2 linked regions of the Homo sapiens genome follow. The protein of the gene in region 2 interacts with the protein of the main gene of each other region in a biochemical or structural test. Each region holds a gene or a part of one and is shown on either strand. Other genes may lie near its edges. The genes, in order: FLNC and XIRP2.

What was found.
Region 1: the proteins of XIRP2 (region 2) and FLNC form a complex in vitro, tested with the Homo sapiens proteins (one study listed by BioGRID).

The regions. Positions count from the first base shown.
Region 1 is NC_000007.14:128,854,406-128,868,825, reverse strand, and holds the end of FLNC (filamin-C), read right to left. Parts: intron 14,414-14,420; coding exon 14,144-14,413; intron 14,052-14,143; coding exon 13,914-14,051; intron 13,628-13,913; coding exon 13,512-13,627; intron 12,309-13,511; coding exon 12,176-12,308; intron 12,082-12,175; coding exon 11,905-12,081; intron 11,709-11,904; coding exon 11,490-11,708; intron 10,819-11,489; coding exon 10,609-10,818; intron 10,491-10,608; coding exon 10,303-10,490; 3' UTR 9,554-10,302; downstream 1-9,553. Other genes in the region: protein SPMIP1, read right to left, coding at 51-160, 1,996-2,416; ATP6V1F (V-type proton ATPase subunit F), read right to left, coding at 3,248-3,449, 3,623-3,706, 5,764-5,921.
Region 2 is NC_000002.12:166,878,986-166,895,632, forward strand, and holds the start of XIRP2 (xin actin-binding repeat-containing protein 2), read left to right. Parts: upstream 1-9,494; 5' UTR 9,495-9,572; intron 9,573-16,647.

The sequences.
Region 1 (14,420 bases), on a different chromosome or scaffold from region 2:
GAGGCCTGTTATTTCTTCTTCCCTCCCCTAAGCCCACACCTGGCCCACGGTCAGAGGGCCAGGTCTCGGGGATCAAGCAGTGCGAAGGCCCCGTTCTTGCGGAAGAATGACTCAATGCGGCACATCTTGCAGGAGACCAGTTCTTGCTTCACTGGGGGGCCTGGGAAAAGATGTCAGAGGCCAAGCATGGGTTCCTGAGGGAGGGACACGCAGAGCATGGGAGCCCTGTCTGTCTGCACAGCCCTAGGAATCCGTCAGTGGAGTAGCCACTTTGTGGGAAGAAATAGAAAGTGCTTTGGAGGAATGGGAGCTATGGGCAAATACTGGGAGCTGGCTGGATGCCAGGATACAGCAGCCATCTGCCATCATTACCCTAGCTTCAGGATCCTCTACCTGCAGGGAGGGGGGCCACCCTAGCCTGCTTGTCACAGGGACAGACTGTGGAGAGATGAGATTTCCTTCGGCCTCCTGCTCCCCGCTTCTAGGGCTCGCCTCCTGCTTTTGTTAGAAAGTTATTTCCCTGACTTCCCCTTTAGGGGCCTGGGGGAAAGGGATGTTTGGGGGCAAAATCTCAACTGAGTCAATCCCCAACCATCCACCTTTTCTGCAAGACACTCAAGCAGCTGGAGAAGGGTACAGGGCTGAGGAGTCTCACTTGACATTCATGAGCACAGACAGCAATGGGACGTGCAGCAACATCGCCCAGCAGCCCTGCCTGGCACATGCCTGTTCCACACCTTTCCTCTTCATCTCTAGTTACTCCACTGCCTCAGCTCAGCTCCCTCCCCGCTGATGGCCTTGACTCAACCTCACAGAAAAAAGACTCAGCCGAGATGGACAGGCTTCCTGCCAATGACATCCCCTACCCGCTCTGGCTCAGCCCTCCTGCCCCCACTCCCATCAGATTCCAGCAACTTGAGCTCCCTAGGAGATCTCATGGATTTAAATAGCACCTATAGGCCAGCCGGTGGCTCATGCCTGTAATCCCAGAACTTTGGGAGGCCGAGACAGGCAGATTACGAGGTCAGCAGTTCGAGACCAGCCTGGCCAATATGGTGAAACCCTGTCTCTACTAAAAAAACAAAAATTAGCTGGGCGTGGTGACACACGCCTGCAGTCCCAGCTACTCGGGAGGCTGAGGCAGAAGAATCTCTTGAACCTGGGAGGCAGAGGTTGCAGTGAGCCAAGATCGTGCCACTGCATTCCAGCCTGGGTGACAGAGTCAGACTGTTTCAAAAAGAAAAAGAAAAAAAAAAAGCACCTATATTCCAATGACCTCCGAATTTGCATCTTCAGCTCTGACTTCAATCCAGACTTATAGACACAGCCACCCTACAGACACTTCAAGCATAACATAGCCAAACACACATGGCTAAATAGGACCTGTTCATGCACGCTCCAGCCCTGACCTCTCCCAGTCTTCCCTGTCACTGCAGCTTTAGCTAAACAAACACCTGGGTGATTGATCTCTCTTCCCCTTATTCTCACATTCTATCCATGGGTGAGTTCCACCGAGTCTTCCCCCAAAACATCCTGAATTGATTTCAGCTCTATTGCTGATCCCTCAGGCCACTACCACAGGATAACCAAACAGATGCCCAACTCATGTGCCAGATTCTACCATTTCCCCTGAAAAAGCCACTGCCTACATACAGGTCAGGGTGACTTTTTAAAAGGTTCACCAGTGTCACTCTTGAAATCTGCTTAGAACCCTCCATCAGCTTCCCTGCACAACAAATAAAATCCAAACCCATCCTTATCATCTGGCTCTCAGCCTCGGGTCCTCAGAAAGGCCTTTCCTGACAATCCAATAAATAGCAGCACGTGGCCGCTGCCTCCCTGCCCACCGCCACTCCCTAGTTCTGTGGAACGTGTCGACACTTCTTGGCCATCTCCTTGCTCTGTTTATAGTCTGGACCCTTCACCAGGATGCCCACTCCCTAGCACATGGCTAGTGCTCTGTTTTTGAGGTGATTTCCAAGAGGTTGGGCTCACCCAGCTGCCAGCCATACGTGAAGCTGGTGGTGATGGGGAAGAGGTATCGCGTCTCTGGCATGTCCAGTTTTCGAGTGTTGAGGTAGCGGTACCGCCCCTGGAAGTCGTGGGAGATGCCTTCATACAGCAGGGCTCGGGTGATAGGTGGTACCGGGTACATTTCCGACTGAAAAGGCGCCTCTGGGACAGGGCTGGGCACCTTGGAAGGGGCTGACTTGGGGGCGGGTGGGGGTGAGAGTGGGGCTTTGGGGTGCAGGGTGGGCAGTTTGAGGGGCAGGCGGGCTGCAGCCTTAGCCTTCTGCTTGGCCTTCACCATCGACCCATACTTGCGGTACCATTCACAGCGCAACATCTTTTCCCTCAGATATTCCTCCTTCCAGAAGTTCTGCCGTAACGCGTCTATGTTGAGCTGCCGTGACATGGTGGCCAGGGAAGGAGTGGCACCAGGGTGGCCACAGCTGAGGGGTGAGCACAGCAAGCAGAGTGCTTCTGACGGCGAGTGGCTGCCCAGGCACAGTCACCTGGCAACCATGCCTCACCTCACACAGGGCCAGGGTTCTACTTGCCATGCCCCCAGCAGACCCCATGAGCCTGGCTTCCTGAGGCAGCCTGAGGCCAGGGCCCACTGGTTAAGAGCCCTGCTCCCCCCAAAACTCCCGCAGGGCCCTCGCGGGATCTGGCATCACAGACTCCCAGGTTTCGTGTGCTTTCTGCTTCTGTCCTTTGGATCTGGCCCCCTTCCCAGCCCAATGCCGAGCAAGGTGGGGGAAGCAGGAGCTGGGCTCAAGCCTCCTCCCATTCCTCCCCAGACCAGAGCTGGTCTTCTCTGATCCAAGGACCAGTCCTTGAGTTCTGCCTCCCGGCACAATCCTCCTGGGCCACCTCTTCTATGCCTGTCTTTGGCAGCACCTTTTCCATCCTTGCCAACCGAATCTGCCCCATGGCCTCACCCCACACATGTCCTTTCCAGCACCCAACCCATCTGGAGAGAAGCAAGAATATGACTTTAATTTAACATCAACAATGACACTGTGTAACAGCACAGGGAAGAGGTAGTGGAGGGAGATGGTCAGGCTTCCTGTTCCTTAACCAGCAGAGCCCCAGCAACCTAGAAGCGCCTCACCTAGCCTCTTAATGGAGTGGGAAGGAGCAGGGAATTGGAAATCAGAGGCTCAAAAAGTAAAGAAGGCTGATGGCAAGCCTGGGGAGAGGCCTGGAAACGAGGGAAGGGCTGAGGGCTATGAGGAGTCCCCTAGCGCAGGTCTTCGGCAGTGAACATGCCCCTGGCCCTGCGCAGGATGGAGTCCTTGGCGGCGTCATATGGGTGCTCCTTGGAGGGGATCTCCAGGACAGCGGGGATGGACTGCTGGTGGGCGTCCAGGGCATGCCGCACCATCTCTGCGATGTACTGGTTGATGAGGATGATGCCAATGTCATCCCGGTTTAGAAATTGCCTGTGGGGAGAGATGAGAAGGGAGTCCAGGACAGCTCTGGGGGCTGCCGTCTCTCCTACCCAGGCAGCCCTCTCCGAGTTGTTGGGCTGGGCTGTGGAGGGGAATGAGCATGACCCAGAGGGCACAGAGGACAAGGGGAAAGGCTGCCACGCTCAACCCTCTGTCAACCCTACCTAGAATCAATTTCATCCCAAAGCGGAGGGTCACGCTGATTAGGGTTGGCTTCTACAACACTGCCCGGAAGGCTTCCAAGTGAACTGGTAATGAAGATTGATTAGGGTGCACACTGGTGTATTCAATATGCAGTGATGTGTCAGAAAGGGGAAGGATAAGATTATATGTATGCAGATCCCTTTTTATGTGCAGATACTGAAGGCCAGCTGTGATGGCTCACGCCTGTAATCCCAGCACTTTGGGAGGCCGAGGCAGGTGGATTGCTTGAACCCAGGAGTTTGAGACCAGAATGGGCCACATAGTGAGACCCCCATCTCCCTCTCTCTCTCTCTCTCTCTCTATCTATATATACACACACAAAAAAATGGCTGGATGTGGCGGATCTATCTATCTATCTATATATATACACACAAAAAAAAAATGGCTGGATGTGGCGGCATGTGCCAGCTACTTGGGAAGCTGTAGTCCTAGCTATTTAGGAAGCTGAGGTGGGAGAATCACTTGAGCCTGGGAAGTCGAGGCCGCAGTGAGCTGCGATCACGCCACTGCAATCCAGCCTGGGTGACAGGAGTGAGACCCTGTCTCAGAAAAAAAAAAAAAAAAAGACACATTAACTTTTAAAAAGAAAACAAATTATTTAAAAATAGGGCTGATGAGACCACTGAAGGCCTCAAGGTCTATCCTGATGAGGGTGGTGGAGGGGTCAGAGGGAAAGTTTGGCATGAACTAAGATCACAAGCTAGGAAGAGGACACCTTGATGAAGGAATCACACTTTCTGCACAAAAAGAACCTGGCCTTGTGCTCCTTCTCTCCTGTGGTCACCCACCCATTCATTTGTTTATTTTATTTTTATTTTTTTGAGACAGGGTCTCCCTCTGTCACCCAGGCTGGAGTGCAGTGGTGGATCTCGGCTCACTGCAGTCTCCACCTCCCAGGTTCAAACAATTCTCCTTCCTCAGCCTCCTGATTTCTTGGGATTACAGGCACCCGCCACCACGCCTGGCTAATTTTTGTATTTTTAGTAGAAATGGGGTTTCACCATATTGGTCAGGCTAGTCTCAAACTCCCGAGCTCAGGTGATCCACCCGCCTCGGCCTCCAAAACTGTTGGGATTACAGGCGTGAGCCACTGCACCCAGACTCATTCGTTTATTTACTGATTAAAAATTACTTACTGAGCACCCACCCCCTGCCAGTCACTGGGTTAGATTTGATCTCTGAGGTCCCTTTTGGTTGGAAACATAAAAAATTCTTGAAGTAAAATTTGTCCTTCTCCCATGATAACTTGGGTCACTTTACCAGACAGCTTAGAGAATGGCAGATAACAGCCTCCCAGGTCAGGGACTACCTAATACACCAGGCAGCAGGAACCAGTCTCAGCCAGCAGCCCTGGGCTGGACTGTTTGGGGGAAACAGGTGAGTGGTTTATTCCTGAGACTTGGTACAGGGGCCCTGGAGAAGGGGTGAGGAATAAAATAGGAGGCTGGTATCCTTAATTCCAGTCACCAGGACCCCTGGTGGATTAAAAGCATGCCTGCACCCACACTCTGACCTAAGGCAGGCAGTGAGGGCTTGAGTGCAAGGTCTTAGCAGAAGGCTCTCACAGTCCCGACATTTCTGCCTACTGTGCTCAAGACTACAAGGAAATTCCGAGGCCGCCTGAGGAGACCTGCCAAGAGTGTGTACCTGGCTTACCGGAGGCAGAAAGGGTTGAGATTGGGTTCAAATTCTAGCTCTGCCTCTGCCGACTCGTAACTTTAGTGTGTGCCTTACCCTCTCCGAGCTTTAGTTTTCTCACCTGTGAGTAGGACAAAAATCATCCCTGCCTTACGGGACGATGGTGAGCCTCTAAAGGAGGAGAAAGCAGAACAAAGTCCAAGCCCACTGTCTAGGCTGTCACGAGCTCTGTTCCCCTTCTTTCATGACACACGATCATGTGAGGTGGGGGGGCTCGTGGACCTGATACAGCTTCTGTCCCACCGAGCCCCAAACGGGGACTTGGGGCGCGGAGGCCTCCGCTCCGGAAGGGCGGAAGGACTTTCAGGATCGTCCCCTCACCCCCGTCCGGGCAGCCTCCAGCCTCGCCCCGCACTCCACCGAGCAGCAGAAGGGCCCGTTCAGGCCTCGCGCGGTACCGTACCGGAAAGTGTCTTCGATCTCATTGATGGTTGTATCCTTCTCCACCACCAGGAAATTGGGATGGCGGTTCTTGTTAAGCTCCCCTATGCCGCCCAGCAGGAAACCAGTCACCGTGTCCTCGTCTCCGATCACTGCGATGAGCTTACCCCTCCCCGCCATCCCTGCAGCCGGGCAGAGCTCACCCTAGAGCACCAGAAGCCACTGAAACCCCGCCTCCGCCGTACGGCGCCCCGTCGGCCTCAACCCCCACCCTTCGAGCATGCGCAGTCCTCCCAGCCGCATTCCGGGACATGCGCATTAACAGCAACACGGCCTCCATGTGAATACGCCTGCGCCGTAAAGACAGGCCCGAACCAGGGGACTACGATTCCCAGAAGACCGCGCGGCACCACGTCCTTCGCGGGCATTCATTCGTTCATTCACTCGTTCCTTGGTTCATTCGTTCAACAAGCGCTTTGGACCTGACGCTGTTAGACGCCGAGACCCCAGAGAAGAGACGCAGTTACTCATCTCAAGGGCAGGGTCTGGGTCTTTATCGTGTATGTATGTGTGTAACTATGACACATAGTTAACAAGTAACACACGTTTGTTCAGTTAAAGGAATGCAAAAGTTAATGATGATACTGCCTAGTGAGGTGGAAAGTCAAGGGAACAGGCGACTACAAAGCTGTGTGTTAATGGTTAGAATGTGAAAAGTATATGGAAGCACACATCCATGGTAACTAACCCATGGAGAGAGGGGGCGTCCAAAGAACCCTTCCCCAAGAAGCTTGCTTCAGATCTAAGCTGAGACCTGAAGGACCTGCAGGATGAAGGGGATAGAAGTGAGGACAAGACGGTGTTCTAGGCAGAGGAACAGCATGTGCAAAGGCGTACTGACTAGAGAGCGTAGGGCCTTCAAGGAAAGTTAAATAATTGGTAAGGCCAGGCATGGTGGCTCACGCCACACCTGTAATCCCAGCACTTTGGGAGGCTGAGGCAGGTGGATCACCTGAGGTCAGGAGTTTGAGACCAGCCTGGCCAACATGGCGAAAACCCGTCTCTACTAAAAACACAAAAAATTAGCCGGGCGTGGTTGTGGGCGCCTGTAGTCCCAGCTACTCGAGAGGCTGAGGCAGGAGAATTGCTTCAACCCGGGAAGCGGAGGTTGCAGTGAGCCGAGATTGTGCCATTGCACTCCAGCCTGGGTGACAGAGCGAGACTCTGTCTCAAAAAAAAAAAAAAAAAAAAAAAAAAAAAATTAGCCAGGCGTGGTGGTGCACACTTATAGTTCCAGGTACTCGAGAAGCTGAGGCAGCAGGGCTTACTCAGGAGTTCAAGGTTACAGTGAGCTATGATCACGGCACTGCACTTAAACCTGAGCAGCAGAGCGAGACCCTGTCTAAAAAAAAAAAAAAAGGATCTGCAGGCTGGGCGCGGTGGCTCACGCCTGTAATCCCAGCACTTTGGGAGGCTGAGGCGGGTAGATCACCTGAAGTCAGGAGTTTGAGACCAGTCTGGCCAACATGGTGAAATCCCATCTCCACTAAAAATACAAAAAAAATTAGCCCAGTGAGGTGGTGTGTGCCTGTAGTCCCAGCTACTCGGGAGGCTGAGGCAGGACAATTGCTTGAACCCGGGCAAGGGAGGTTGCAGTGAGCTGAGATGGCGCCACTGCACTCCAGCCTAGGTGACAGAGTGAGACTCTGTCTAAAAAAAAAAAAAAAAAAAAAAAAAGATCTGGAAGTTATCCTGAGGACAGTTATCCTGAAGCTGCTGAGGGATTTCAAGTAAGAGAGTGCTATCGCCAAACTTACGTTTTAGAGCTGTCACTCACTGTTGACTGTGCTGTGTGCAGAGGCGAAACTGAGGGAGGAGAAACCAAATTGGGAGGCCACTGTGAGAGATAATGGTGGCCAGGACTCAGGTGGTGATAATGGGAAACGCAGAGAAGTAGGTAGAGCCGAGAGATATTTAGATATTTAGGACAAAACTGGTTTCAGAGTGGATGTGTTTGGGGAGTGAGGTAGAGAGAGAGACCTGGGTGATTTCCAGGTTTCTGGCCTGTGCAGCACATGGATGGGAGTAACATTGCCAAGAAAGTGACCTCTGTAAGATGAGCAGGCTGAAGGGGAAGGAGCCACTCTTTCCTCCTCCCTTTTAACAAATCAGCACTCCCGGTGTCTGGCATGGGGTTTGTGAGTTTGGAGTGCTTGAGACGTGCCCGTGGTCTGGTCTAGCGATTGTATGTGTGATAAGCTTGGGATTCGGGCACACCTGGGTTTCAATCTGTGCCCCACTACTTAAAGGTACGGTTTCAGACTCATCACTGAAATTCCCAGGGCCTTGGTTTCTTCAGATGGTAGTAGCCCCACCTCATAGGGCTGTTATGAGGATTAATGAGGAAGGGCCTGTAAGGCTCAGCACCCAGGGCCACACTGTGGCTGGCTGGAAGCAGGCAGGCTGGAGGTCTGTGAGCTTATCAGCCACACACAGGTGGAGGCAGCCGAAGCTGAGGGGGAAATTAGCACATCTAGGGGTGAGGGTGAGGGTGAGGGGGGCAGAGAGTGAGGATGGGTGTGTGGGAGGGTGTGAGGGAAGAGGGAGGAAGCACAGAGCCTGGTGAGAGAGGTGGGGAGGTCAGGGATTAGGAGTTGGGGACTCGTGGGTTTTTCTGCCAAGCCCACCACCATGTGCTGAAATGCCCAGGTGGGTCTAGATTGTGGGATCAGTTGAATGAAAGACTTCTTTTCCCTGCTGCAGCTACTCAGCTGCTCATTTATTCATTCATACCCATTCACTCACTCATTCACACCCAGGGCCAGGGAGCTCCATCTGGTGGGGAGCCGTGGATACATGGCCACAGCTCAGGGTCGTAACTGCAACTAGAGATGTGTCCCAGGGCAGTTTGGGAGCTGGGGGCACTGATCCAGGAGGGGTAGGGAGGGGTCCAGGAAAACTTCCTGTTGGCCAGGAAGATGAAGAGGGTGGGGAGGCAAAGGTGTTTCCGGGCAAGGGCCCAAATTACAGCATGGGTGCCCAGAGGTAATGAAGGGGGGTTGGAGGTGGAGGGCACAATGGAGAGTGGGCCTGCTGCCCAACTCATATGGCTGGGGAGGCTGCTGTCTGAACCTGGGTGGCCCTGGAGACCTTGTCAGGAAGAGGAGACTTTACTCTGGAGCAGGAGGGAGTCACAGATGGCCCTAAACCAGAGAGGGGCATATACTATCTTTAAAGTGACCCCCCCGCCAAGCTGCAGCATGGAGGGGAGGTTGGAGGGAGCTGGCCAGGGCAGGGCTGTTGCAGGAGTTCAGGAGGGAGGCCCTGTGCAAGCTTAGTGCTGGAAAGGGGCATGAAACAGGCCAAGTTGATTCAGGAACTGACTAGGGGGAAGGTGCTGAGTCTGCAGGTGGTTCTGCCTGCCTGCTGGTTGAGGAATATTCCTGTTTGAGTCAGTGCTCACTGTTTTAAAGTCTTAATTTGAAAAACATCCTTGAGGTCAAGCTGAACTGAAACTGGCCTCCCAGGGGTCCTGGGACAGTACTGTAGAACACAGTATCCACACCCTGTACTGTCCACGAACCCTCCCGCTGGGACCCCTTCCCACATCCCCGAGCCCCCACCCCCGGTTCTTTCAAGCACTCTGCCAACATCCCAGACCTCACTTCTGCCCCAGGACCTTTCCCTCGACTGGGTCAATCTTCCAGGGAACAGCCAGGCCGCCTCTGCCTCCCCAGGGCCCGGTTTTTCGTGTGGCAGGCCAGAGGGCAGCCAGCCACACAGAGCACACCCCCAAGGAACAGCCAACCCTCTGCGACAGCCGCACTTTATTTGGAGTTTTCCACCTAAGCAGCTCCCAGCTGAGCTGCATGACATGTGCAAAAGTCCCCTAGAAAGCTGGGCCTCGCAGTGTGTAAAAAAGGCCCCCCATGGGGCAGAGCCGTGCAACCATTTTAAAAAAAGAGACAGTGAGAGAGAAATCAGGCCCCCTGGGAGCCTGGCTTGGGTGGAGTGCACATCGCTCAGGCCGGTCCATGTGCCAGGCCACTCCTGCTGGTTCGGGGGCTGTTTTCTTCTCTGATTGTGCTTTCCTTTCCAAGTCCTTAAAACTCTGGGGTTGTAGCCACCAGAGAGACCAGACCAAGTCCTCGGGGTCAGGAGGGTATCTGGCCGGCGGTGCAGTTTGAGGGTGACCTCACACACAGACACCCACAACACAATGCTCCCCCACTGCTCAGCCCCGCCAGAAACTCAGGGCTTCCCTGGCCTCGCAGCCCTCGCCAGCCCCTTGTGTCCCAGCCTCTGCCCCTGAGCCTGGCCCCAGTCGGCCCTCATGTCACATTCCCAGGGAGGGACACTGTCCTGACACAGACAAGGTCCTCCAACCCCTGGGGCGCGGTGGGGTGGGGAGGCTGGGCCTTCACTTCACCCCCAAGGCAGGTGTTTGTAGTGTCTGATTCTGTGCGTGTCTGGGTGTGGCACATTTGTGTGTGTGTGTGTGTGTGTGTAATGTGTGTGTGGCTGGAGGTGGGGGCTGAGGCTGGGGAGGCACTTTTGGGATTCAAGGGACCTTGACTTTGAAGGGGCTTCCAGGGACACTTTCGTCACCCCACTTGACAATGAGGATGTAGTCCCCTTTCTCCTTGACAGTGTAGGTGACATTGTACACCCGGTTCCCCATGTGCTTCACGTACACCTCCTCACAGGGGGTCTTGGGGCCGTGCACGCCCACCATCATCATGTTGGTGCCTGGAGAGGGAGGCAGAGGGACAGGCTCACACCAGGGAGTCCCCTACTGTGACCCACACCCTGCTCCCTGACGGCTTCTTGCTCACACCCCGGGAGACGCCCTCCCCCCGCCACCTGCCTGCTTTGCTGCAGTCCACGGTGAAGGAGTTCTTCTGGCCCACGAAGGCCTGGGACAGCCCAGGGCCCCGAGTCACCACCTTGCTGGCATCTGAGGAGAACTTGGGGATGGAGCTGTAGCTGGAGCCCCGGCTTGAGGAGGACTTGGTCACAGTCTCCACCAGAACCGTGGATGTTTCGTGAAGGCTGTGGCCTCCGGACAGCCTCGGACCTGAGGGGTGGGTGGAGGGGGCACAAACCTAGTCAGAAGGGCTTCCTGTTCTTCCCCAGGCAGGGGACCCTCGGCCAGCACTGCCACCCTGTGGGACTCACTGCCTGCATTTGAGGCTCCCCCTCAAATTCCTCCAAGGGCCACTCTAGGAGCACAGCCTCATTCCCAGCCAGGGCCCTGAGCTGCCAGCTCCAACTGGTGCTCCACCCTAGGGCTGGGGCCTCAGATGCTGCGTCCCTCATCCTTGCAGGCTTTGTCTGGGAACTCAGGCTAACTCACAGGGTAAGAGCCACTTTACAAAGGAACACCCACCCAACTCATCCTACAGACAGCCTCAAGAGGGGAAGCTTGCTCAATACCGACTGTGTCTTCTTGGAGCGGAGGAATATGGGAAGCCAGGAGGGAAGAAAGTGGTGCTAGAGCCTGAGGAGCCAGCGCAGGCCAGAGCTGAAGGAGTGAGGGGCCACGATGGAGAGGAAGAATGGCATTTTTACGTGATCATGCCCGACTCCACAGAACGTGTACTGTGTAGAGCCAGGCCCACCTCTAGCCCTGGTAAACTGACCATGATGTCTGGGGGCAGACTATGGCCTAGATGTGCGTGGCCACCGGAGCCCTCCAGGCTGGGCTGGGCTGCAGGCTGGGTGGACCTCCCCCAAACTGGCACTCACCAGTGACCTTGGCCTTGAAGGGGCTGCCCACGATGTGCTGGGGGCCACCGTACTTGATGGCAATGAGGTAGTTGCCAGGGGCCATGGGAGTATAAGTGACCACATGGCCCTCAGGACACTCCCGACAGTCCAGCTGCACCTTGGAGGGGCCATCAATGGTGACAGACAAGGCCCCCGAGCCGGCATTCAGGGTGTTCACGATGAACTCTGATGACACACCTGGGGGCCAGAGGTAGCAAGGCTGAGGGCAGGAAGGGCTTGTGGCCCAAGAGGGACTGGGCCCCAGCTCCCTGGACAGCCTCTGTGGGGACTCCTGGCTTAGGAAGCAGGGCCCCTACCTCTGGAGCAAAGCAGCACCAGACTAGTGGCCAAGCACCCCCAGAAGTCACCCTGTTCCCCAGCTCCAGGCACTCACCGGTAGTGCCTCCCTCGAGCCCAGGACCGTAGGCTGACACCAAGCCTGGGTCCCCAGCCTGGCTCTGCTCCCCAACGCGGATCTTGAAGGGACTTCCAGGGATGTGGGCACCGTTGAACTTGACATCGATGGAGTGGACGCCATTCTCGTGGGGGATGAAGCGGATGGTGTGCTTGTCTGTGGATAAAGGGTTGGTGGCTTAGCCTCCATCCTTCCCCTCCCCAGAAGGCCCCAGCCCGGAAGGGAGTTGGCAGGGGCAGGGCCAGCTCACCACTGTCCAGCTCAGAGACGTAGCACTCCTCCACAGCCCCCGAGGGTGTGTGCACCCGGGCATCAATCACGCCCCGGGCACCGTTCAGCTGCACGGCAAAGGACGCTGGCTGGTTCACCTTGAGCCCCGTCTCCTGCAAAGGCCACGGAGGATGCTCAGACTCCTGGGAGGCCGGGGCTGGAGCAGTCTTCTCTGAAGCCCCACACGGTGCTCACTGTAAGCCCAGCCCAAAGGCTGCTGCCACCCCATGCCCAGCCTGGCCCCTGCCTGCCAGCCCAGCCTGGGAGCAGGAGGAGCCAGGGTCCGGTATGCAACCCTATGTGTGCACCTGCTATCCTAGCTGTGCTTGGTGTGTGGGAGATGACAGACGATGTGCCCTGTCCTGGCTGAGGAAGGAAGGGCCCCACTCTGTGTGAAGCAGGCTGAGGGCGGAGGGCAAGTGCCTGATGGGCTGTGTGGGCTGGGGGTGCCAGAGAGCTCTGAGGTAGGAAGCTGAGTTTCACTGGCCTGGCCTGGGAGAGCTTCCTGGAGAAGGTGGACCAACAGGGAGGACCAGAAGAAGCACAGAAGGGCTCTGGGGGAGGGATTGGAGCCTGCATCGGGGAGCCCAGTTCAGGAGTGGGAGGAGGAGATGCACAAGGACTCTGGATGGGCCAATGTGACCACCCTGAGGGGCAGCCAGGAGGCGCGTGGGAGAAGGAGGTGGGGTGAAGCCCATTCTGTGCGCCTTATGCAGAAGCTCCTTTACAATGTGTCCCCTGGACACCTGGCCCCCTGGTTTGCATGTTTCAGTGTGACTTGCTGAAAGCCTTCCTTGCACATGTCCGCTGTGACAGAATGAAAGGAACACACCACATCTCTAGAAGTCAGCAGCAAGAGAAAGCAAGCCAGGCCCCCAGCGGCCTGAAGAGGATGCAGCCCAGGCTCTGCAGCCCATAGGCATTCCCTTTAGAGGAGCCTCTCACACCCTCTGTGCAAACTGGTTTACTCTTAGTTTGTATAGATTTTATGCTCTCATTCTTATAAATGTTGTCATCTAGCATTCTTACAACAGAAGGTGGAACAAACTGTAACAAGAAATGGCAGGTGGCAGTAGGACAGGCAGACACACCCTGAGAAAGGCAGAACGAGGCGTGGCATGCCTGAGTGCACGGGCAAGCCCCCAGGGTGGGAGCCCACCGTCCCCAAGGGCCCTGCCTCGTGCCTTATGAGAAGGGACTCCTAACTGGCCCTTCCAAGGTCACTGCTAAATCCCTGGCCCCATGGACCTGCTGTCCTCAACTCCTGCCCATCTCTCAGATAGCAGAAACCCTCCACCCCCACCCTGGGCACAAACCTGGAGGCTGGTGACAGTGAGACGGCGAGCGTCATCCGAGAGGGAGGCCACAGGCACCACAAAGGGGCTGTCTGGGATGTGCTCATCATTGAACTTGATGGAGACCTCATAGTCACCTGGGGAGAGAGACCAGTCAGCACAGGTTCCGGGATGGAGGTTGGCAGGGCGGGAGCCTCCCCACCCTGGCCTTATCCCAGGAAAGGCTCTGTGGTCAGCGCTCAGATCTGGAGGCAGACACATGTTTCTGAGGGTGTGGGGTAGAGGGAGACGGGGCAGAGGAAGAGCAGGGGGCTCCGGGGAGGGGAGTTCTGTGGCCCCAAGCATCTCCTGCCTGGCCAGTGGGCAGAAACCCAGTCTGGAAGGTCAGGCAGGCCCAGCCCCACTGCCAGTGTGGACGCCCACCTGGTTCCTGGACGACATAGGAGACGCCGCAGGAGCCATCTTTGCGATCCTCAAATGCAATCTCCGCTTTGCTAGGACCCTCCACAGCAATGGACAGGCCCCCAGCGCCAGCCTCCCGGGTCCAGATGCTGAACTCGGCTGGGGACAGGCAAGGTAGTGGACTTCAGCATCATCGCCCCTCACACTGGCTGCCCTGACTTCATCCCCACTCCTGGCCACCTGCCCCTTACCTGGCACGCCGGCCACACCTCGCTCCAGCCCTGTGCCTCCGGCCCGCACCTTGTGGGCACCACCTTCACCCAGCGGCCCCACAGTGAACTGAAAGGGGCTGCCGGGCACGTGCTGGCCACGGTACTTGACAGCGACCGTATGGGGCCCCATTTCCTGGGGCACAAAGCGCACGCTGTAGGCGCTGTCCTCGCCCTCGACGATCTCTGCGGCTTCCACCTTGCCCGATGGGCTGGTCACCTGTGCAGTCATGTCCTGAGAGCTGGCCTCACCTGCAGG
Region 2 (16,647 bases):
AAAGTTAACTGGCCAAAGAGTGTTCTAGGACATATTTTCCTGGTAGCAGAAAGAGAAAGAAAATGAACATTGAAGTCTTGATAAGCAGCAGGATGAATCCATGTTTGGCTTGATAAGGATTTAGATAATAGTAGAAGTAACATAAAAGGAGAAAGTAATTGCTGAAAGGAATTCTCCAAAGTTGGAATTATCATGATGACAACTTCTACTCTTGAATTAAATAACTGAGTATAAAGATTTAAAAAAAATTTTTAAGCTACAGTTGTTGGGAAGACCAGATGAACCATGAATTCATTTGACATTCCACATGTAAAGGTCCAGTAGAAACAGATATCTGAAATAAGCCTAATAAATTAAGGCTACGCATGGATCTGTCTGCATGATTGAAGCCCAGACAACAGATAAGCTGTCTTAGAAAGAGAGACCAAAGGCACAAACAGAGGTTTAAAAGTTGATGTAGAAGGTGAGAGGAATAACTAAAAATGAAGAACAGCTTGGGGAATATATCTTATAGTAGAGAAATTTTCTGCTGTATGATTTCTACTTCAGTCTGACAGCCTAGATGTACATCAGATTTCTTACGGTAAGAAATCATATATGTTTTATTTTTATGATTCCCTCCATTTAGGTCACAAATGCTTTCAGACTTCCTAGTTTTAAGAACTCCACATCTGCTGGTATGAAGTATTTCCTTCTTCAGGCAGGGTCTTTAAATTAACTGCGTTGCTAATAAATTTTAGCCTGACTCAGTCAAAATTGTGAGCTAAAATGTTGGTCTTTGGTAATCTTAACCTTATCATTTATGCCTTGGGAGCCCAAAGCTTATGCATTTTGCTTAGATCCCTGTATGCAAACTTTTAGTCAGAGATTACTGTTAATACTGTGTTGCTTCTCCCAGTATCTTTGCATTTTGTTTGGAACAAGTCACCTGTTGATTTTAATTTTAGAATTCAGGCAGACCACGGGAAAAAACCCAGTTTCTTCATTTCTTCTTTCTATTGTCCCTTTTTCTTTTTCTTTGTTTTCCATTTTTCTCTTTTCCTTTCTACTTAATGGGATAAAAAAGTGGCGTTTCCAACTTCCTCAATCAAGACTCCATAATTGGTCAAGTCAGGCAACTCTACTAAGGTTGAGTTCAGATCTGGAGTCAACAGAAGACAGAGTGAAGCTCCATTGACTATCATTCCATTTACTAAAATACAAGTGTTATTTTAATTGTGAAACTGCCAGTCGAGTAAGGTGCAAAACAAATCACCGTGAAGTTGAATGCATTTTTTGTGTTCTGCTTGAGCAAAAATAGAACAACAGATGGCCATAAATTTAGGGAAGCTTAATGAATTGGCAAGTTATGACATAAAGTAAGTTGGAATTGGGTAACTTAAATGGCTATTAACAAAGGAGGAAAAATCTTCAAAAATGTTATTTTTTTTTGGAAAATAGAACACATTATAATTTAGATTATCTGTTTTCTTTTATCATTCTTTCATTGATACGTTTAGTTTAAGATCAGTTTCAGATAAGCATACTGCCCCTCAGCTCTACAATTTTACCTTGAAAAGGCACAACCGTATGTCCTTTGAAGCCAGAATCTTGGAAAGTTCAAGGTTTATAATAAACTTACCACAGACAAGGAGAGCCTCTAGGCAGAGAATATGTTCCCCAGAAAATAGGATTGAGTCATATAAATTCCTACTGAAGTTTGCTCTATATGCTGGAACAATTACAAAGTGTAGGAATTTTATAAGTAAATATGAGGTACATAGAGAAGGTGAGAGAGAATTTTGGGTGAATTTGAGAGATTTGTGGGTAGAAGGAGCTTAATCCCTCTTACCATATTTTTAAAATTTCATTTTCTCACATTAAGAATGTATTTATTGACGGGATTAATCCAATACATACATAGACTGGAAGAATGCCTAATAGTTATTCTATAAAATATTTTTGGCAAGTCACTGTACCTTCCTCCACAACCAACCAACAGCAGGTTTTTCACAGTGAGAATATACAGTATTATATTAATAAAAAATTATCAAAAACTGTTGGGGAATACTGATCTATTCCTGAAACTATGCCAAATAGATGTTAACCCTTTCAATGCAAAGAATTCACAGGTGAATCAGTAGAGAACATTCTGCTTTTTACATCAGGACTATATGTTAATGCATTTATTTTAAGCATAGACACTTTGCATTACTTAGAAATTAGTATGAGTGATTCAAATGCCTGAAAATTTACAAATCATTCTTCAAAATTATTTTTAAAATAAAAGCAATTAGGCTGCATCACAAAACAGTTCATGTGGTTCTAAGAGCAGCACAAAAATGTAAGGACTATGAGCTTCGATAAGACAAGAATTACAAATTGTTTATAGAATACTATAAAACAGAGGTTAGCTTGAATTTGTGAGAGGCAATTCAGTGACATAGCAAGGCTGGAATTCAAGTTATGGAAGGGTAAAGAGAAAATGCAAGCAAATAATTATGGACAATCAGCTACATTGCTCTTTCAATAAGCTTATCTTTTTTTTAAGAGAATGAGACATAAAAAGAGGGAAGATCATTAGTAAAATAAGATGTCACTCTATTTTAGATATGCCTAAGATGCCAAGAACACCCTCCTTGGTTGCAACTTGGGGAGGGAGTTTTTTTGCTCTTCATATACAACTTTCATTTTTTTCTTGAGGCCTGTATTTACACATATGCCAACTGTGTTAGGTGCAATAATTGTGAGTTTTGGTAACTATCTTCTGTATCACTTCTGAATGTAGCCACAGTATTTTATAGAATTTATAAAATTTACATTGGAACTATATGTTAATGCACTTATTTATAAATTTATAAAATACTGTGGTTACATTTTATAAATACTGTGGTTACATTCTTTTTATAAATACTGTGGTTACATTCTGAAGTGAAACTGAAGATATCCCAGCTCCAAAAAATGTTCTTGTCAGAATCTTAGACATGTACTTGACTATCCTCTAGAATTTTTAATAAACAAACATCAAAGTGTCATGTATACTCTCAATATTCTTCCCCCTACTAAGATATGGAGCCATTTATAATTTGATTTTAAATGCCCAAACCCCAAAACTTTGTACAACACAATAAGGATATTTATCAGATAATGACTTTCTAATTAAGTATATTGTTTAGGAAAAAAATTAAAATCTCTAATGAACCTACAAAAATAAAAAGAGTAGTTAAGCATAGCCGGAGAGTTTCCAAAAATCTTTTAACTTCTAAAATTAGAAGAAAATAGAATCCTTGCTTTGCTCAACCTACAGCATCAGTTGGATTCAACTGTATGTATTTTTTAAGCCTTATAACAACTTTTTCAATACACATGAGAATGAAAAGAGATTTTTAAAAATATTTCTCTCTTTGATGTCTGGTTTAAAAGACAAGAAAATATCAATAAAGTTTAAAAAACTAAGAATTGCTCAAAACTATAAGGATGCTGGAATACCTAGAAAATATACTAAATAGATTTATTGTATTTAGGCAAAGCTATTTTTAAGAAAAAATTTTAATTTATGTTATTCATTAAAAGATTCAAATAAAAACATGACCCTACAAATAAGCCATTTAAAATATATGTTTTTGACCTTTCACATTCATGGGTCTCTCTAAAATTAATACTATATAATTTAAGAGTTCCTCACCAAACTGTCTTCATGGCTTTGCAATCAGGACCAATAGAGTTGTGTTCTATTCTTGTCTGTCATCTGTTAATTTGTGTTCTAATTGGAAGTCAGTAATTTTTCTCTGAAACTCAGTGTTCTCATTTGAAAAATGGGAAGATAACATGTTTCCTTGAAAAAATTGTTGTGAGAATTTGTCTTAGACTGCCTAGGCTGCCGTAAGAAAATACCACAAACTGGGTGTCTTAAATCACAGAAATTTATTTTCTCACAATTCTGAAGGCTTAAGTCTGAGATCAAAGTGTCAGCTTGGATCAGTTTTTAATAAGGTCTCTCTTCCTGGCTTTCAGTGGTTGCCTTCTTGCTGTGTCCTCACATGGCCTTTCCTCTGTGTGCATGCACTTCCGGTGTCTCTTCCCGTTCTTACAAAGAAACCAGTCCTGTTGAATTAGGGCCCGATTTTGATGACCTCATTTATTCTCAGTTATCTCCTTAAAGGCACTCTTTCCAAGAACAGTCATATTGAGGGGTAGGGCTTCAACCTATGGATTCTAGGGCACACAATTTGGTCCACAACAGTTACTGAATCAGAATCTCTGATAATGGAACTTGGAAATCTACATTTTCAAAAACATCCTGAGAAATTCTTAGGCACACTGAAGTTTGAGATAGAAACTCTACAATTTATAAATGGATTTTGGGGACATATGATTTATATTTTAATGGGCAAAGAAAGTGATGACTTTCTTTCTTTCCCCTGTCCTTTATGGAGTAGCTCCAGTTACCAACAGGAAGAAATATGGTATCATAGAAAAAGTTCAAGATTTTCCGCCGGGTGTGGTGGCTCACGCCTGTAATCCCAGCACTTTGGGAGACCGAGGTGGGTGGATCACTTGAGATCAGGAGTTTGAGACCAGCCTAGCCAACATGGTGAAGCCCCATCTCTACTGAAAATACAAAAATTAGCTGGGCCTGGTGGCAGGCACCTGTAAACCCAGCTACAGCGGAGGCTGAGGCATAAGAATCGCTTGAACCTGGAAGGCAGAGGTTTTAGTGAGCTGAGGTCACGCCACTGCACTCTAGCCTGAGTGACAGAATGAGACTCTGTAAAAAAAAAAAAAAAAAAAAAAAAAGCTCAAGAGTTTGAAGATGTAGGGGGTTCTATCAGAGAAAAATTGCACTCGACAAGTTGAACAGGCAAGAAAGGATTTATTTAAGACATCACTTTAGGGAAGAGAGATTGAAAGCATCTCTGCTGAAACAAAAGTTGGTAGAGTTTTATAGTGGGGTGAACTGGTGGAAAAGTACTGGAGGACATTAGTGGGGAGGTGGTCAGTGTGACTAGGCCATCTGTGTTTACTAATTGACACTTACTGAAGTTGGGCTCTTACCTTCCCATAGAGACTGGGAGATGGGAATGCTATCTTTCTTGATTTTTTTAAAAAATATTTTAATATGACTACATAATAGTTGTATGTTATTTATGGGATACATGTGATGTTTTGACACAAGCCTGCAGTGTGTAATGACTGCATCAGGGTAGGTCCTTGAGAAAACTTTTCTGGGTTATAAAATTGGCAAGAAGCTGGGAGAAGATTCAGAGAGTCAAAAAATTTGCAATCGAAAGTTTTCTAAAGTAGATATTCTAAGGGAGTCAGGGGTCAATAGTAAGAAGTCTGTAAAGTATAGTCAAGCTGCAGAAAATATTAAGGCATTCTTAGCCATTTTGAATACTATCTCTGTCACTAATCCTGTGAACTTGAACGGGTCATTTTCCCTTTATGACCTGGACAATGTGAGATTTTGATTCAGGGCTTCCATTAAAATCACTAATGCTAAAATTCTGTTTCAAAGGCTGTTACTCAGCCATTAGTCACCGTGATTGCCTTACTGATTTTTAAAATATCAAAAATAATTTTGAAATTCTTTGTAAATGTCCTCCTTGTGACTCCGAAACTTTCCCAAGATATAGTCAATGCTTCCAGGATGCTGCTTTAATACTAGGATTATGTCCATCTGATACTAGTTGTTAAATATTCAGAATATCACTCTGGGCTATTGCAATCTACTTAACAGTTAGTTAGAAAGCAATCCTAGTAAAAACATGGCATTAGCAATAAAGACTTCAATAGGACTTCAATATATCTTATTTTCCTAAGAATCTGTACTTGCCACTGCAATTGCTGTATACTCCCAAACAATCTGGTATCAAATGTTTATTTTCCAAATTTTTTTAAAACCTTTTCCCTTATGTTCAGTTAAAGTCAATTGATTTTGGCCCCATGTAAAATATGCAGGAGATCACAAATGAATCAAAATATTAACTGTCTTTTAACATTTCTCAGTCTATTAAAGGAATAGAAATAAGCAATTTATAAAGTGCTGAGAGAATACATGACTAATTCTGGTTGTTGATGGTGAACAGGTTAGAACTATGATGACTAGAAGAATTAAAAGCATTTATATTAGGGTACATTTGTGGATGGTTTGCTTGAATAGAAAAAGAAAATTTAAGAGACCCATTAGAATTTTATTCAAATATTTAAAGATTGTTTGTTCATGTGGAAGAAGGATTAGACTTGTTTTATATGGCCTCAAGGCTTAGAACAGGCTCAAAGGGAAAATTACAGAGATATTTTGGGTTTAATGCAAGAAATATAATTTTTCAAATGAGAGCTTATTCAAAACCCTTGCTTTGGACTTCCACAACTCCTCTGCCAAGCCTTTCAACAATGAATTATAGTCAGAAATTAATTCACTGGAATGTCACACCAAAATATAAGGTCCTGGGGAATAAAAGACTGCATGGGATTTAATTCAATAACTAGTGACTTTTTTCCCAGTTGATTTTGGATCTCATGTGTGTCAAGTTGATGAATTAATAAATACAAGTGAGTCTCTTACAATAATGTGCCAACCCAGTCTGGAGGGCCCATCCACATGTGTATTGTAGGAGAAGTCTAAGCATCTAATAATTGTTGAGACTAGATGATTTAGCACAGCCCAACAGAAATAAGTGTTGTTAAGACGCAATTCCCTAAAAGGTCCTGGTTGACATTCAGTGCATTAGAATCTGAACTTCAGCAACCAGGTAGGTTTACCCAGATCAGATATGTATAACAACACCTGGAGAAAGTTTTTAATTTAAGTCCTAATAAAGATACCAAAGCCTAGCTGAGAATGAATAAACAAATATTCAAGAACAACTACTTGCTATGGATTTATTATGTAGTCAAATATAAATACTATAGTTAGGCTCCAGTATAAACTTGCTGTCTGTGTCTTCATGGGAATGGGCAAAATATCTCACCCCCATCAAATTGAATGGTTGGTGCACTTCTTTATTCTTTAGAGTGGGCCTAGTGCAACTTCTCAAGCCTACTCAGGTGGCAACTAAAAATTAGAGTTGGCACATGAGATGAAAATTATTTTCAAGCTCTTGTCTAAGGAAATACTTTATTGTTGATATAGTGTCTACTACCCTTTCTTTGAAATCTCACTATCTTCATCTGTCTCCCACTGTTACAAGCTTCTAGGATGGGATGATAATGTACTGAAATCAGGTTATTTATCATTATTTCCAAATACTTTGAATATCTGCTAAAGGGATTCCTCAAAATTCACTTTAAAATCAATTATTATTTTTACTAAGTGGTTTATTATTTTAATGCACACACAGATTTCTGGTTTTCTGCTTAGGAACTATACCAATGTTTCTTAAAAATGTCACTCTCTTATTTGTCCATGCTGTTTTCATTTTGTTAAACGAGTCATTTTGTTAAATGAGTCTTTGGAGATGAGAGGGATACATTAACCTTTTCTTGTGGGAAAAACATTTGGACTCAGAAGTAAAAATGGATCCCTCACTGGTCAGAAGCATTGACTCAAAGGCATGCCTCATTTCATGCCATTCATCTTCACTCTCCTGGGCCTCCAAACCCCAAATGTGCCAACAGTAGTCCCATCGCAACATTATGTGGGCATTACAGTTCTACACATCCTTTTCTGTTGGGGATCTTGCTTTTTTAAAAAAACAGAAGTAGCAAAATGATGCTGATTCTTACTTGGTTTCTCATAATTACCGATAATATTTTGTTTAAAATAGTGAGAATCAGCCCTGCCACAACTTGGTCTTGAATGCTCTCATCTTTATATCTAACCAGTCACCTTACATGTTCAATATTCCAGCTGAGTATCACTTCCAGATATGTTCAGCATAGTTATTCAATAGGAGTACTTAATAAAGACAAAATGTCACCCAAACTGTATTTTCTCTCTGTGTTATGTGGAATTTGCCTGACTTTGGTCAGGATATATTTTGTCTATCCAGTTCTCTGTGTCTACTGTTTTTGTCACTCTGTCGTGGAAGGAAATTAAGTTGATTTGACAGGATTTATTTTTCACAGTGCCAAGGAGATTTTACCCAGTAACTCATGATTTTCTAGGTGCTTGAAAATTGATTTTTTGATGATATGTTTCAGTAAGTTTTCAACTAAATACTGATGCTGACAGGTCTGTAATTTCTAAAGTTATCTGTTTTTTAATCTTCCCAGAGTAGAAACAAGAAACACACCAAGATAAGTACTGCATTTAGTCTTTTTAATATAGCAGAATGTCTAAGTCCTTTTTAAGTTCATAGATGTTGAGCTAATTGTTCTTTATTGACTTTGGCAAACTCTTGGAAAAATAATTAAGTCACCAGAATTTGCAGTTCAAAATGTGACCAGTTTATAACATTAGCCTTGTAGTCGAACCTTTATATCACACCCTGTATCGTCTCCAAATACCATATCATAACTGCCCTATATTTTAAGCTTTCAAACAAGATTTCTGAAACCTACAGTTTGAATACTGGCTAAGCACTGCAGTTATTTATATAATTTATGGTCATTTTTATATATGAAAATTCATTGATTAAAGTTGTAAGATTTAATTTATTATATTAAAATGCATTTCTGCTATTGAATTCCTTTATGCAAAAAAATCAACATTGTCTTTAGTAGTATATCACTGAACCCCTTATATATAAAAACCCCAGTTTGGAACAAAGAGCTATTAGATGACCAAATAAGAATCAAATTAGACTCTGCAATTAGAGTCTGCGAAGAGAAAGACTTTACTTATTTGAAATAGTATATAGCTTACTATATGTAAAATAAAATAAAATTATCTCAGAAGCTGTGGTCTCCTATAATTTGTAGAAGATGATAACTGATATCGCTAAGCACTTTTTGGTTGCAAATAACTATACTTAAATACTGCTAATAAAAGCTGACATCCGCTGATCACTTGCTTCATACCAAGCACTATCCTAAGTTCTTTATGAGCGTGATTTCATTTATTTTGTTCATCTCACAACAGTATAGTTAGAACATACTATTATCATCCCAATTTTCAAGTGAGGAAACTAATGTTTGGATATATTAAATAATGCATCTAATGTCATATACTAGTGTTTGAGTAGGAATTTGAAGCCATTTGGTTTGAATCTGGACTCTATGTTCATGATCATTATCCAAAATTCTCAGGTGTCCCAACCCCTCACAAATGACTTTGAATTAAATATTAGGTTTATTTTTATATGTATGGAACCTGACGCACAGTGATAATTAAAGTGTAGCTCAGCCATAGAGTGAGCCATTGGTCACTATGGGTCTTTGGGTTAAAACATACCTTTAAGAATATGTAGGAAAAAAATGATAATAGCTAACTCAGCAGCATTCATTAATTCATCTGCAGCAGATTAACTTGTTCCAAAATAATGAGATAATCTGATTCTGATGGAACATGGAGCAGACAAATTCTTCTAGAACCCGACCTGTTTCTATGTGGGTGTATCCAGGAAGTCAGGATTATTTGGAGAAATCTGGCAGGTCTCTAGGCAGACAAAAGGGAACATCTGGTAGGGACTGGGACATGTAGAAAAAAGGTAAGATTTTCCTAAGAAAAACCACTTCTTTCATAATTTTTTCTACACATACATGCTTCTCTTTGATAGTTTCTGACAGGACACTATTTTGCCTCTCTCTCCCTATTTCTTTTAAGTAATATACATTAAATTAGCATAGAATCACAGCATCATCAACAAATTCAGGCTAGCGCTTAGTGACAGACACTGCTGCTAGAATCTCTAGTTATTCATTTGTTTTTCTAACTAAGAAACAATTTAATCTGGGGCAGCAATGTGCCCAGAGAAAAAATAGTTAATCTCTCAGACTCAAAACACGTAAGTTTGGCTATATATTATATTTTTGGACACTGAAAGATAGTCAGGGACTTCTGGGGAAGAAATTTAACAAAAACAGCATCACCCAAAGAAAGCATCTGGGCAATTCTCCTTTCTTCCTTCGTTCCATTGAGTCAGGTCAGAGAGGACTCGCCAGGGACAAAGCCATGACCCTCAGGGACCCAAGGGCATGAGCCTGCAGCTGACAGCCCCATTCTGAATAAGCATTCAGGCACACAGACCAGGGTGGTTGTTGCAAACCCCTCAGCAGCTGCCTCCTGGCACAACCACCCACTAACATGTGATCTAGCAGACAAATGGAAGCTCTTCTTACCCCACTTCTTAGGCACTCCAACAAGGGTTCTGAATTCTAAAAACAGCAAAAAACATTCAAATTGTTACATATGAAATGCTTTCCTGCACCTTTCTATCTCAGAGATGACAGCTGTCCCTCCTCCACTCTCTCCCCACTCGCCCCCAGACACCTCCCTAAACAATTTCTGTGCCAAGATGAAGAGGATGTCCCAGGCCATGGGGCTTCTGGCCTTGAAGGGCTGCTGCAGTGGAGCCAGGGCACAGGGTAGGTGAGACACAGCAGAGGTTCTGGCCCAGGTCCCTGGCCTCTCCTCCTGCAGGTGGCGTTTATTTATTCAAGGGGAGCAACCATGTTCATTTTCCCAACAATGTGGCACCATATTTTGCTTTCCTCTCCACTTCCTTCTTCCTTGCAGCCTTCTCCCACTGTTTCCAGATGATCACCAGCCAGGCAAGGCCCACCTTGGCTTGCTCTGTCTCTCCTGCTAGTGCATTTTCTCCTTAAAAGCTCCTTTAGCCTGTCCAGATCCACTTGTTTGACCTTTCTGGTTGTCTATCCTACCTGCTTGGGGTTCTTGATGTTGATGAGTCCTTCCATGCCTTTGTGCTTTTGCTGGTAGTCATTTTCTTCATTTTCATTCTCTCATAAGTCTAGATTTCTTCCCCTTTTTGGGGTAAGCCCCATCTCCACCTTCTTCTCCTTGTTATTCTTCTCCATAGCAAGCAATCCTCAAGCAGGTATTGAATTAATGAATGGTGTTGTGTCTTCTCCAGTTCATTAATATTTCTGTTGATGTAGCTAAGTTTTATTTACTTTTTAGTTTTATTTTATTTTATTTTATTTGAGACAGAGTCTTGCTCTGTCACCCAGACTGGAGCATAGTGGTGTGATCTCGGCTCACTGCAACGTCCACCTCCCAGGTTCAAGCGATTCTCCTGCCTCAGCCTCCTGAGTAGCTGGTATTACAGGCACGTGCCACCATGCTGGCTATTTTTTTGTTTTTTAGTAGAGATGGGGTTTCACCGTGTTAGCCAGGATGGTCTCAATCTTCTGACCTCATGATCCTCCCACCTCAGCCTCCCAAACTGCTGGGATTACAGGCATGAGCCACCGTGCCTGGCCCCTAAGTTTTATTTTTTAACTGTGGGTTCATAGGCTTCGGGCATCAGAATCACCTCTTGGTGCTTTCTAAGAAGGCCAGTTCCCAGTTCAAATTCCAGACCTTGAAACTAGCTGAAACTCCCCGAGTGGGCCCTTAAGAATCTGCAGTGCTAAGGACATCTCAGATGATGTTGGTGCACAGAAAAGGTGAGAACCAGAGCATCTGAACAGACTGTAAATCCCTGAAGTCTGGATTTATGTTTTATAATTCTTTGACAGCTCTCAATAGTAAACTCTAAAAGTTTGTTTTTATTTTTATTATTCACACTGAGATTCATATTTGAAATTTCATGAGAGCAAATTTTGCATGCTTCTTTTATTACAGATGTATTCTGTATGTGGGTGTAGCAGAAGCTGATATGACAGATCATCAGCTTTGTCCTAAATAACAGGTATTGTCTGGTACGCAGCCTGCTTGGGATAATCCATGAAATATTTAACAAATTTCTTCTTTTGTTAAATACTAATTACCCATATCCTCCAGACAGTTTTCTGGGACTCTGAGATGGGTCCTTTTACTAAGGATGAGTTTATTTTTCTATAGAATTTGGAAACAAAAGCTGCTTCAATCAGCCTTTAACGAGTAAACTTGTAAGCTGAGTACCTAGCACAAACAGGGGTTATGGTTGAGGGTGCACTTCTCTCTTCCATGACTTACTAAATAATGCAGCTCCCAGAGCTGGCTATGAGAGATTTGGTGTCTTGTAGCTGCTATCTGGCGACGTATGTCCATCATGCTTGATGTTCATTAGTTAGATGAGATCAGTAAGTTAAAGAACTGTTAAATTTGTGTTTTCCTTTAATGGATACGTGACTGTGGTAGCTGAGTCACAGGACAGAAATTTGACAGAAAAAGACATGGCGGTAAGATAAGCTTATTGCAAATATACAACTTCATAAATTCTTCTAATAACTTGTCTTAGCAAGGTGCCTTAGCTGGTTCACTTAATAAATGTGAATGTGGAGATAAAAGAAAGAAAAATAAACAAATGCATTGTTCCTATCTCTTTTTTACATATATGAATTATGCATGCATCCTATTAGTGGGAAATTAAGTAATGTACTATGTTAGCTACATTTTTGGCAGAAAAATTAATTGTTCTGATAAACCTAGCATAGCTGGAGAAGTTAATGTAATTGACAATATATAATAATAAAGCTTTAGTTAAGTTTTTTCCTTAATATTGAAAATGCCATTTCTTTGAATCTCTTAACTAATTTCTTTCACATTCTTATCAGATAGATATTGAGCAACTATCTGCCAAAACTAATTAAAATTTCCCTCCCAGAAAAGATCAATTACTTGCTTTATTTGGAAAAACACTTTCAGTTGTTGTCTTTTGATTTTTTTTCTCTGAAAAAAAAATTGTTGTCTGATAATCTTTCTTAATCACAACAAAAATTCTGAAAGCTTGGTAACAGAAAATGTAACCAAAGCATGAAAATAAGTTAAATTACACTAATATTAGCATTATAAACATAATCCTTGGGATTCTTACCCTTGTCAGAAGGTGCTAGTTTGACATATTTACCTAACCTTAACTTGCTTTCTACAGTTGCAAGACTGAGGATTTCCTTGGCAGAGAATCTGGCTTAGTGACAACATAAATTTGGCAGGTTCTTGGAAACCTTTTGTTTTGTAGTTTGAACCTTCAGCTTGCCGATGCTGATATGCCTCACAATCTTCGTCTGTTCTGTCATCTTATTGGGATCATTAACTACTATTTTGAAGGATGCTAGAATTATATTGCAAAATATTTTCCCCCTTCAGACACATGTTGTAGTTTCCAAAGATGAGAAACCCACTAGAAAAATTTCTATCCAACAATACCTTTTTATTCCATTCTGATGTTTTTTATTCTCAAATTGGCACAGGCTTCATTCTGATTAACAAAAATATTTTAGAATTCTAGTTGGTATTGTACTTGTTGAATTATACCTGAAAAAAATATTTAAAGTCATGTTTAAAGGGCCTCAGAAAATGCTGTGATCTCCAAAGCACACTGGGCCGGAGTATGGTGGGTGTTGGGAAACAGAGCAGGTAGAAATCACAGAAACAATGGGAATGAAAAGAGACATGTGTTGATCTTTCATGAAAAAAGTCAATTGCTTTGTGACTGAAATTATTCTGTGAAACAGCTCTGGCATGCAATCCAGACCCTTTGCAGCCTGCTGTGTTTTCAGAATTTCAAAGCCAACTTTAAAAATTATTGCATAGAGTAAAACAAGGTTAAACACCCTCCTGCAGAGCTTCACCTGCCTGCATCTGAGGAGAGGCTTCCTGTGAATTTCAGTAAAAGGCCTTCCATCCAGGTCCCCACAGCAAATATGTTGAGGCTTCTCAGGTTCCCAGAGCTGAAGTTTGTGTTCTTTTCTGAAATAACCTTTGATGGGTTACTTGACATAGAATGCTACAATTTTGGAGCAATGAAAAATGACATCACTTGCAGTCAGCCTCAGAGATCATTTCATAGAAGATATATATATATATATATAACTTCTATGATATGTTATAATATATGTTTTATATATATATGTATGTGTGTATATATGTATATATGTGTATATATGTATATTTATGTGTATATATGTATATATGTGTATATGTGTATATTTATGTGTGTGTATATACATATATATATATGTATATACACACACACACACACACACACACACAACACCACCAGAGGGAAAAGAGAGGGATCGCATGCTGATTCTAGAGAGGGTTTGCGTGTGCTGTAATTTAAAACAGAGATGACTGCAGTAAACTGACTCTTGGGTTTAAATTACCTTCAGTGGTCATTCTCTGGTAGTGAAAAGTGAGAATATTGGAATTTGATGATATAAATATTAGAGTAACTGGTGGGAAATTTAAAAATATTCCAGAAAAATCCATAATTGTTTTAAAAGGCTTTTTCCTTCTGTGGAAGGAAGAAAACAGTTTAAACCAATGCTGATAAAGATGGCATTTATTTTCTCTTCAAAAATGTAGAAAAGCCAACTGCCTCAATCCCAATACACCAAAAAAATTATTTGCATTTTTAAAAAATACTTTCAGTTCTTGAACATATGCATATATTTTGAAGTCATGCAATACATTCCTTTCTGCGTATCTCTTTACCCAATTTTATATCATATACTGATTTCATTGGTTCTGCATTGTCTTTATATTTACCATTTCACATGGCTACATCATTTCATTGTGTGGCCAGACCATCATTTAGTAAAACATCCCCCTCACTTTGAAGCATTTCCTTTTTTACTATCTATAATGACTATTGAAACTTTGCAAGGCACATTTGCATATATTAAAGAATATTCTTCTATTAAATTATTATTTCTGGGCACATTTTCTTTTTTAGAAATAGAGATCAAAAGTGTCAGTGCCATTGCCAGTCTTGCCATGCTTAAAACTCTTCATTCACTATCATTCTGTAATAATCATAGATTTCTTAGATTTGAACATGTGTTTCAAATTGATACATAACTATGCTTTAAACTTGAAATGCTGTTAGTAGAGAAATGTACCAAAACATGTCCTCAAATACAAGAAACAAGAGTTATGACTTACAAGAAATCTTAGTAAATCAACCATATGAGACTATTTACAAAGCTTGTTTAAAATTAACTTTAGGGATTTTCAGTGGAACAGGGAAGCATTTGGTAGTTTTTCTTCTCCCCAAGACCTAGTCAAAGATAATTTTTCTCTGAGTGGATTGGTATGCTTGACAGGCAAAATTGTGGTCATTCTTTTTGTTTAATGCAATGGGCCACAAACCTAACATTATCATTATAATTAGACATAAACTCAAAGTTACAATAATAGAGGCCGGAGATAATTCTTACAATGACAGAGATCACAAAATATTAGAACACTTTTGTAAACACGCAGTCTTTAATACATGGACAACTTAGCTTTGACCAAGGGTTTCTTTCCTTCCCTTACTTACAAATCCTCTCTCTGAAGACCTCATACTCTTTTATACAAGATAGCAGATCACCTGGCAGGAACGTGAAATAAACTCTTTGGAATCCTAACGTGAATGTCAGCTCCATGTATTTACTAAATCTTGGCAGATTTCCTTTCTTGAGTCCATGTAAGCTATTATTCTCTTTATTAGTGTTTCTCAAAGTATAGATTTCAGGCCACCTTCCTTAAAATCACCTCAGGTACCTATTAAAAATGCACTAATTGAGTTGCTCTTAATATCTACTGAGTTGGAGTGAATCCCAGGGGAGCTATTGCTCCAAGTATTAATTCTAGTATGAGAAGAAAAAATATGTTTATACATATGATGGGTTATAGTGAAAACCTACTTTTTTCAGCATTGTGCCTTTCATTCTAATAATGTTAATTGAGCCCCAATTTTGTGCCAGGCAATGTGTTAGAAGCGAAGGATAAACTACTGAACAAAAACTGGGATGCACCTTGCCAACATAGAATTTTCAAGTTAGGGAACAGACATTAATAAAATAGCTACACAAACAAATGTGTAATTGTAGTTTTGACAATGTGAACAGAGAAGAACATATTTTGAGGGTGCTAAAATAGTGAGCTATATCATCTTTGGTAAGTCAGGAATGCTTCCCTGAGGCAGTCATGCCGTATGCTGAGAACAGAAGGATAAATAACGGATACCAGCAGAACAGGAGAGAGAAGAGTACTTACGCAGAGGGACAGCCTTTGCAAAGGTCCTGTGGCAGGAGAGAAAATAAGAAATGCAAGAGACTAAAAGGACACAGTGATTAAATCCTGGAGAGAGGATGAAGGAGGGGAATCATGGTTGAAAATCTCTGAACTGCCCAAGCCAACTCCTAACAAGGAAAAATGCAGAGTTTACTACTTTAATTAGAAGCAAAACATTTTACGTGCCATATGTGACACTGCAAAACATTTTTATTAAAATGTCCACATTGGTTGTATTATGCCCTGATGCTTCATTTCAGGTCATTGGTTAATCCTGTGGCTTCCATGGCAATTTGCAATTTTTTGTTTCATCCTACCTCAGTCTACCTTGCTACATCTCAGTCTCAATAACTCCACATACTGGTGCTTAACTTAGCAAAGACAACCACCTGATCTAAAGTTGTTTTTGAGGATTGCTCCCCCAGGTGGATAAATAAGGTGGTAGGTGGGTCCCACCATACCCAACAACAGGTCTCTGGATCCATGAACAGAAGTAAATTATATGTAAATCAAAGTTTGCTTTCCTCAATTAGAAAGAAGGGGATGCCATGTCCTGTTGGCAACGTTTGCAGCAGGGTCACTGCCTGCCACCTACGTAGTCCCTTTGGATATTC